2 separate regions of the Homo sapiens genome follow, and region 2 is linked to region 1. The links come from fine-mapping of genetic effects on gene expression. A gene starts in region 1. The other region holds a variant in brackets. All regions are shown on one strand. Distances are between the middles of the regions. Region 1 holds the start of DEAF1 (DEAF1 transcription factor). Region 2 overlaps DEAF1 (DEAF1 transcription factor).

What was found. PIP is the estimated chance that this variant, and not a neighbour inherited with it, causes the effect. A credible set is the group of variants that fine-mapping cannot tell apart.
Region 2: its variant is the best candidate, but not a certain one, in a credible set for the expression of DEAF1 in Th1 cells (Schmiedel 2018, PIP 0.57).

Annotation. Positions count from the first base shown.
Region 1 is chr11:693,143-697,521 of GRCh38, reverse strand. It overlaps DEAF1 (DEAF1 transcription factor), which reads left to right and starts at 2,300. Exons shown (of 12, transcript NM_021008.4): 1 at 2,300-2,763. The coding sequence starts at 2,475. It overlaps TMEM80 (transmembrane protein 80), which reads right to left and starts at 1,706. Exons shown (of 5, transcript NM_001042463.3): 1 at 1,676-1,706. The coding sequence starts at 1,694. RefSeq lists enhancers at 162-701, 1,242-1,781, 1,782-2,323, 2,324-2,863 and silencers at 1,309-1,728, 2,229-2,528, 2,539-2,658, 2,679-2,928.
Region 2 is chr11:666,510-670,888 of GRCh38, reverse strand. All of the region lies in intron 10 of DEAF1 (DEAF1 transcription factor), which reads left to right. Among named protein-coding and RNA genes, the nearest start is that of DEAF1, 27 kb to the left of the region's middle. The variant AG/G (reference allele first, on the strand shown) is at 1,763.

The DNA of each region.
Region 1 (4,379 bases):
ACATTTTAATAATTAATATGAAGGGCGGCTATAACCAGATACGCTGTTCTAACAATTCCAGACCTGCAGGAGCTCATTCTGACCGAACGTAGCCTTGGCTTTCAGGACAACATTTTTTGTCAGTGACTTACTATAATCACAATGTGGCTACGAATAGCTGTGTCAGGCAGAAGTTAAACATGGAAGTGAAAGAGAACAAGTGTTTTCCCTGATGTAATGGACAAGATGTGTTAAGAAATCTTGTTTTGGTATACACTTAGTTTTTTTAGAGACAGGGTTTTGCTCTGTTGCCCAGGCTGGAGTGCAGTGGCCTGATCACAGCTCACTGCAGTCTCAACCTCCTGGGCTCCAGTGATCCGCCAGCCTCAGCCTCCCACGTAGCTGGGACCACAGGCTCCCTGAGGTAATTTTTTTTTTTTTTGAGACAGAATTTCGCTCTTGTTGCCCAGGCTGCAGTGCAATGGTGCGATCTTGGCCAACTGCAACCTCCGCACCCCACCCCCCCCACCACCACCACCGGGTTCGAGCAATTCTCCTGCCTCAGACTCTCAAGTAGCTGGGATTACAGGCATGCACCATCACGCCAGGCTAATTTTGTATTTTTAGTAGAGACGGGGTTTCTCCATGTTGGTCAGGCTGGTCTTGAACCCTCGACCTCAGGTGATCCGCCCGCTTTGGCCTCCCAAAGTGCTGGGATTACAGGCGTGAGCTACTGCGCCTGGCCTTCCCCGGGGTAATTTTTAATTTTTTTTTTGTAGAAGGGGGTCTCGCTCTGTCGCCCAGGCTGGAGTGCAGTGGCGCCATCACGGCTCACTGCAACCTCGACCTCCTGGGCTCAAGTGATCCGCCAGCCTCAGCCTCCAGAATAGCTTGGCCCACAGGGGTGCGCCACCGCCTGGCTGATGTTTACAGTTTTTTTTTTATAGAGGGGGTCTTGCTATGTTGCCCAGGCTGGCCTCAAATGATCCTGCAGCCTCGGCTTCCCAAACTGTCAGGCTTACAGGCCTGAGCCACTGCGCCCAACCTAAACTTAATTTTTAACCAAATGAAAATACACAAAACAAACCTGGTTACTAGAGGCTGTCCTGCCTATGGAGTAGCCATTCTTTATTCCTTCAAAACAATGCACCTAATTACTAGAGAACACGCACGAAGGTTTGGCACTTCAGCGCCCGCGTATGGGAGTTCTGGCTGTACCCACAGACAGCAGAAGGCGGCTCCTCTGCAGGATGGCCGATTTACTGCTTTGGTCTGTCCCTTCCTCCTCTCGGAGGCGAGTCTCTCAGGCAGGACGGCTGAGGCACCGGCGCCCGCGATTTTCTTTGGCGAGAGTTCCAAGGCTACCGAAACCCTGCGCCCATCCCGCCCACGTGTCTTCACAAAAACCACGCGCGGGACAAGAGCTGCCGGGGACTGGGGCCCCCAGAGCCGCTCCGCACCCACCCTGCCCGGGGCCAGGCGCCCGCGCGCGGGGGAGCTCTTCGGGGTGCAGGACGCCCGCCACCCAGGCCAGGCCAGGCCGCGCTTCTCGATGGGGTGACGGAGCTGTCTCGCTCACGTAGAGACGGTGGCACGGCCCCGTGAGCGCACCGAAAGCGGAAACCGGATTGTCACCACAGGGAAACGCCGCGCCCGCCGCTGCAAGCCCGGAAGCCCCCACCCCGCCCGAGCTCACCTCGCCGCGGGGCCGCCATCTTACCCGCCCCGCCCGCCGGTCCGTCGCGATCCCGGCAGCCTCTCGGCCCGCGCGCTCGCGCTCCTTCGGCCATTTTCGCGTCTCCTGACGAAGGGGCCCGACCGCGCCGCGTTTCGGGAGCGGACGTCCGAGCCACGGCCGAGGCCCGATTAGTCCGTCCGGCACCGCTCGGGCACTTTCGGAAGGGAAGAGGTGGAGAACCGACGTTCGGGAGCATTCGGCCTCGGGGACATTCGGCTCGTCTCGGCTCGGCCTCGGGCTGACTCGGCTTCCGCCGGCGGCGGGAACGGGCGAAACCCGCGGCACTAAGCTCTCTCTGAGAGGCAGAATTGCGCCGGCCGCCGGCGAGAATCTGCCTAGAGCCGTCCAGCCCTGTCGGCCGGGGACGACAGCCGCCTCAGCCTGTCAGGACAGTGAGGAGAGCAGGGGCCGAGTCTCTCGGAAGCCCTCGTGAGGACTCGGACCTATTCGGACTGATTCGGCTTCCCACTTCGGGGAACTTCGACCCTCCTCGGTTCAGGACTCGGTCTCGGCTCGGCGGCTTCGTGCAGGTTCGGCTCCTACTCGGGCAGCCTCTGTTCGCCTCGGCTCCGCTCCGCGGGCGGACTCGGCTCGGCTCTGCTCGGCGGCTGGCTGCCTTTTCGGTCCCTATTCGGGCGGCGGCTTCGGGCGGCCTCGGCCCAGCTCGGGCGTCCTCTTCGGGCCCCGCTTCGGGCTCCGCGACCGGCGCTTCGGGCGGTCCCGGACGGCGCCTTCGGGAAGGCTCGGCGGAGTCCGGATGGAGGACTCGGACTCGGCGGCAAAGCAGCTGGGCCTGGCTGAGGCGGCGGCGGTGGCGGCCGCGGCCGCTGTGGCGGCGGCGGCCGCGGCCGCGGCAGGAGGCGAGGCGGAGGAGCCGGTGCTGAGCAGGGACGAGGACTCGGAGGAGGACGCAGACTCGGAGGCGGAGCGGGAGACGCCGCGGGTCACGGCAGTGGCGGTGATGGCGGCGGAGCCCGGGCACATGGACATGGGCGCCGAGGCCCTGCCCGGCCCCGACGAGGCCGCCGCTGCCGCAGCCTTCGCAGGCAAGTGCGCCCGCCGGCCTCTCGCCTCGTCCGGTTCCCGCGCGCCTACCCCGCGCGCCTGCCCCGCACAACTGTCCCAGGTGACCAGCCCGCCACACCTGTCCCTCACACCTGCTCCACGTGACCAGCCCGCTCCACCCGCCCTGCACACCTGCCCCTCACACCTGCTCCACGTGACCCGCCCGCCCCACCCGCCCTGCACACCTGCCCCACGTGACTAGCTCACCCCTCACATCTGCCTCTCACACCTGCCCCACCCGCCCCTCACACTTTCCCCACGTACCTGCTCCAGGTGACCAGCCTGCCCCACCTGCCACAAATACCTGCCTCGCACACCTGCTCGACGTTTCCAGCCTTCCCCACCTGCCCCACGTGATCGGCCTGCCCTACCTGCCCCGCACACCTGCCCCACATACCTGCCCCAGGTGACCAGCCTGCCCCACCTACCCCAAACACCTGCCCCGCACACCTGCCCCTGGTGACCTGCCTAGCCTCACCTGACCTGGCCCTGCCCTGCACACACCTGCCCCCTGCCCCCCTTTTCTTTGTGGCAGCCCCGCCTCCTACTGGTCCCCCCTGTGCAGCTCTGCCCCTGCCCTGCCTTCGTCCATCCTGGCTCCCCCCACCTGTCCTGGAGAAGCCCTGGGGTGGGTGGGCACCTGTGGTCACCAGGAACCCCCCACTTCCTGAGGGCCAGTTCAGGCATGACCTGAGCGCTGGGGAGCCAGGGGTGGGCAGCCTGCTGGAGGCCATGATGCCAGAGGTCAGCGTGGCTGTGTGGTGGCCCAGGGGGGCTGCGGAGCCACCTGTGCAGGCTCCCCTCCCAGTCCTCCCTCTTCCTCTTGCCTTTTTCCCTAAGGACCTGCTCCTCCTGCCCCGCTTCCTGTCGGGCTTCCTTTGGGGAGGCTGCTGTGGCTTTCCAGTCCACATTTTTATATAAGCTGCTTATAGTTTCTTGCCACACAGGTCAGTCTCCTTCTCAGGCTCCAAAACACTGGGAGCCCGTGGCAGAGCTCACAGATGCCCTACGGGGCTGGTGCCGTCCACCCACCTCCTGTGTCCCGCCCTTGTGTCCGTGGGGCATAGACTTCCCCACCCACTGGCTTCCTAACGCACTGTATTCTTCCCCATTGGAGTTCCCGAGTGTCCCCCAGGGACTCACAGCTCAGTGTTGAGACCCTTGGGAGGAGCTTCTTGTTGCGTTGTGAGGCACTTTTCCCCTACGGAGCTTTGCGGGTTGAGGAACTGGATCCCAGTCCTGGTGTGCTGGGTATGTCAGGGCATTGCGTGTGCTCTGGGTGCTTGTTCGGCCTGGGGGCTGGGTGGGGGCCAGCAGCGTCTGGGCTGCCCTTGGTCAGCTGAGTGGCCCTCGAAGGCAAAGGGGTCACTGCTGCTTGTTTGGTTGGTTAAGAAAAAAAAGTGAGGGAAGGCTTTGTGACTCTCAGGGGTTGGCGTCCGTCGCTAAACTCTGGTTTGACGTTGGGATTTGGAGCCATGAGGTTGATTTCAGGTTTTTGTCATTTTTGCACGTATTTTTCTGAATGCATAAAAGAAAAATGATGCTGTTCATCATGATGTCAGAGAAATGTGCTGACGTGTGTTTTCTTCTGAAAAAT
Region 2 (4,379 bases), 27 kb after region 1:
TGAGGATTGCTTGAGCCTAGGAGGTTGATGTTGCAGTGAGCCGTGATCACACCACTGTACTCCAGCCTGGGCAACAGAGTGAGACCTCGTCTCAAAAAAAAAAAAAAAAAACAAAAACAAAAAGAAAAAAGAAATTAAAAAGGAAAAAAATAAAGAAAAAGATATATATATATTTTGAGATGGTCTTGCTGTGTCACCCAGGCTAGAGTGCAGTGGTGTGATCTCGGCTCACTGCAGCCTCCATCTCCCAGGTTCAAGCGATTCTTGTGCCTCAGCTTCCCAGATAGCTGGGATTACAGGTATGTGCAACCACGCCCAGCTATTTTTTGGTATTTTAGGAGAGAAGAGGTTTCGCCATGTTGGCGAGGCTGGTCTTAAACTCCAGGCCTCAAGTGATCTACTTGCCTTGGCCTCCCAAAGTGTTGGGATTACAGGTGTGAGCCACCGCACCTGGCCAAAAAAATACTTTAAAAAAAAAAAAAAAAAAGTATACTTCCAAACAAACAGCTACTTAATGCTGAAATTTATAGAGGAAAAGAAAGTTTAAAGGCAAAAAAATCTATAACCCTGCACCCAAAGATAATGACCGTGAACACTTACTGTGTGTCCTTTTGGTCTTTTTTGGTAATTGAGGTAAACTGTATGTACAGCAAAGTGCCTCAATCTCCACCATAAAATGTAGTGAGTTTTGATGAATGCATGAACCTGGTCATGAGACCATTTCAATCCCTGCAGAAGCACCACTCATGTCCCCTTCCATCGGTCCCCTGCCCCATGGACAGTCACTGCTCTCATTTTTTTTTTTTTCTTTTCTCTTTTGAGGCAGCATCTCACTCTGTCACTCAGGCTGGAGTGCAGTGGCATGATCTTGGTTCACTGCAGCCTTGCGCCACCATGCCTGGCTAATTTTTGTATTTTTTGTAAAGATGGGGTTTCTTTTTTTTTTTTTTTTTTTTTTTTTGAGACAGTCTCACACTGTCACCCAGGCTGGAGTACACTGATGCAATCTCGGCTCACTGTAGCCTTCGCCTCCCAGGTTTAAGTGATTCTCCTGCCTCAGCCTCCCGAATAGCTGGGATTACAGGCACATGCCACCATGCCCAGCTAATTTTTGTGTTTTAAGTAGAGACGAGGTTTCACCATGTTTGTCAGGCTGGTCTTGAACTCCTGACCTCAGGTGATCCTCCTGCCTCAGCCTCCCAAAGTGCTGGGATTACAGGCATGAGCCACCGCACCTGGCCTCTTTTTTTTTTGAGACAAGTTTCGCTCTTGTTGCCCAGGCTGGAATCCAATGGCACAATCTCGGCTCGCCATAACCTCCACCTCCCAGGTTCAAGAGAGTCTCCTGCTTCAGCCTCTCAAGTAGCTGAGATTACAGGCATGCGCCACCACGCCCAGCTAATTTTGTATTTTCAGTAGAGACAGGGTTTCACCATTTAGGTCAGGCTGGTCTTGAGCTCCTGACCTCAGGTGATCTGCCCACCTCGGCCTCCCAAAGTGCTGAGATGACAGGTGTGAGGTACTGCACCCAGTTGATTTTCTAGATTTCCTACCACAACTGATTTCTAATTCAACTCCAATATGCTTAGAAAATATACTCTGATTTCAGTTCTTTTAAATTGATTACGATTTATTTCGGCCAGGCATGGTGACTCACACCTGTAATCCCAGCACTTTGGGAGGCCAAGGTCTTGAGGCCAGGAGTTTGAGACAAGCCTGGACATTGTGAGACCCTGTCTGTACAAAAAAAAAAAAAAAAAAA[AG/G]GGTCGGGTGCAGTGGCTTACGCCTGTAATCCCAGCAGTTTGGGAGGCCGAGGCGGGCAGATCACAAGGTCAGGAGGTCGAGACCATCCTGGCTAACACAGTAAAACCCCGTCTCTACTAAAAATACAAAACATTAGCCAGGCATGGTGGCAGGCACCTATAGTCCCAGCTGCTCAGGAGGCTGAGGCAGGAGAATGGCATGAATCCAGGAGGCAGAGCTTGCAGTGAGCCGAGATTGCACCACTGCAGTCCAGCCTGGGCTACAGAGCGAGACTCTGTCTAAAAAAAAACAAAAAACTTTTTTTTTAAAGGGTTTCACTTTGTCACCCAGGCTGGAGTACAGAGGTGTGACCTCGGCTCACTGCAGCCTCAAGTTCCCAGGCTCAAGCAATCCTCTTGCCTCAGCCCCCCAAGTAGCTGGGACTATGGGCATGTGCCACCATGCTTGGCTAATTTTTGTATTTTTCATAGAGAGAGGGTCTCACTGTGTTGCCAGGCTGATCTCAAACTCCTGAGCTCAAGCCATCCACCCACCTCAGCTTCCCAAAGTGCTGGGATTACAGGCATGAACCACTGTGCCCGGCCAAAATGTTTCCTTCATTAGCCGGATCACTGGAGCCCAGGGGTAGAGGTTGCAGCGAGCTGTGATCACGCCACTGTGCTCCAGCCTGGGCAACAGAATGAGACCCTGTCTCAAAAAAACAAAAAGATGTGTTTTATGATCATGTATATACTTTTCGTGGTGAATATTGCATATACACTTGAAAAGAGTTTTATTCAGTCATTGGTTTTCGTTTTCTGTAATGTCATTAGGTCAAGGTGGTTCATAGTGTGGTCCAAATCTTGTTTTTCTTCAACCTAAAGATGTACTTTCAGCTTTTCTTTTCATATAGGTCTGTTGGCCATGAATTCTCTGTTTTTGTCTGTAATGTCCCTCTTTCACCTTTATTTTTGAGGGACGTTTTTGAGTGACATGGAATTCTGGGTTGTCACTTACATATATATATTTTTTTGAGACAGAGTCTCGCTCTTGTTTTCCAGGCTGGAGTGCAGTGGCACAATCTCCGCTCACTGCAACCTCCATTTCCCAGGTTTAAGCAATTCTCCTGCCTCAGCCTCCTGAGTAGCTGGGACTATCGGCGTGCGCCACCACACCCAGCTAATTTTTGTATTTTTGGTAGAGACGGGGTTTCGCCATGTTGCTCAGGCTGGTGTTGAACTCCTGGGCTCAAGTGATCCACCCGCCTGGGCCTCCCAAAGTGCTGGGATTACAGGCATGAGCTAACACGCCGGCCTATTTATTTATTTATTATTTTTTGAGACAAAGTCTCACTCTGTCACCAGGCTGGAGTGCAGTGATGCCATCTCGGTTCGCTGCAACCTCCGACTCCCTGGTTCAAGCGATTCTCCTGCCTCAGCCTCCTGAGTAGCTGGAATTACAGGCACACACCACCATGCCCAGCTAATTTTTTGTATTTTTTTATTAGAGACAGGGTTTTGCCATGTTGGCCAGACCGGTCTTGAACACCTGACCGACCTCAGGTGATTCACCTGCCTCGGCCTCCCAAAGTGCTGGGATTATAGGCATGACCTACCTGGGTTGTCACTTTTTATCATTCACCAGTTTAAAGATGTCTTTCCATCATCTTCTGGCCAGCCTGCCTACCTGCCTTCCTTCCTTCCTTCCTTCCTTTCCTCTTTTCCTCCTTCCCTCCTTCCCTCCCTCCCTCCCTCTCTCCTTCCTTCCTTCCTTCCTCCCTCCCTCCCTCCATCCCTCCCTTCCTTCCTTCTTTTTTCTTTCTTTTTTGAGACAGGGTCACTGTCTGTCACCGAGGCTAAGAAGCAGTGTTGTGGTCACATCTCAATGCAGCCTTGAGTTCCTGGGCTCAGGTGATCTTCCCTTAGCCTCCAGAGTAGCTAGGACTACCGGCACTGGCCACTACTCCCGGCCAATTTTTAGCTGGGGTTTCACCATGATGCCCAGGCTGGCCGCAAACTCCTTGGCTCAAGCGATCCTCTTACCTCAGCCTTCTGAGTAGCTGGGACTACACATGTGTACCACCATGCCCAGCTATTTTTTTGTTTGTTTTGTATAGATGGGGTTTCACTATGTTTCTCAGGCTGGTCTTGAACTCCTGGACTCAAGCAACCCACCTTCCTTGGCCTCCTAAAGTACTGGGATTACCAGCATGAACCACTGCTCCTGGCTATAACTATTTCTTTTTTTCTTTTTTTTTTTTTTTTTTTTTTTTGGAGACAGAGTCTTGCTCTCCAGGCTAGAGTGCAGTGACACGATCTCAGCTCACTGCAAGCTCTACCTCCCAGGTTCAAGCGATCTCTTGCCTCAGCCTTCCAAGTAGATGGGACTACAAGTGTGCACCACCACACCTGGCTAATACTTTGTTGTTTTGTTTTGTTTTGAGACGGAGTCTTGCTCTGTCGCCCAGGGTTGGAGTGCAGTGGCACGATCTCAGCTCACTGCAACCTCTGCCTCCCGGGTTCAAGTGATTCTCCTGCCTCAGCCTCCCGAGTAGCTGGGACTACAGGTGCATGCCACCACTCCTGGCTAATTTTCTGTATTTTTGGTAGAGAGGAGGTTTCACCATGTTAGCCAGG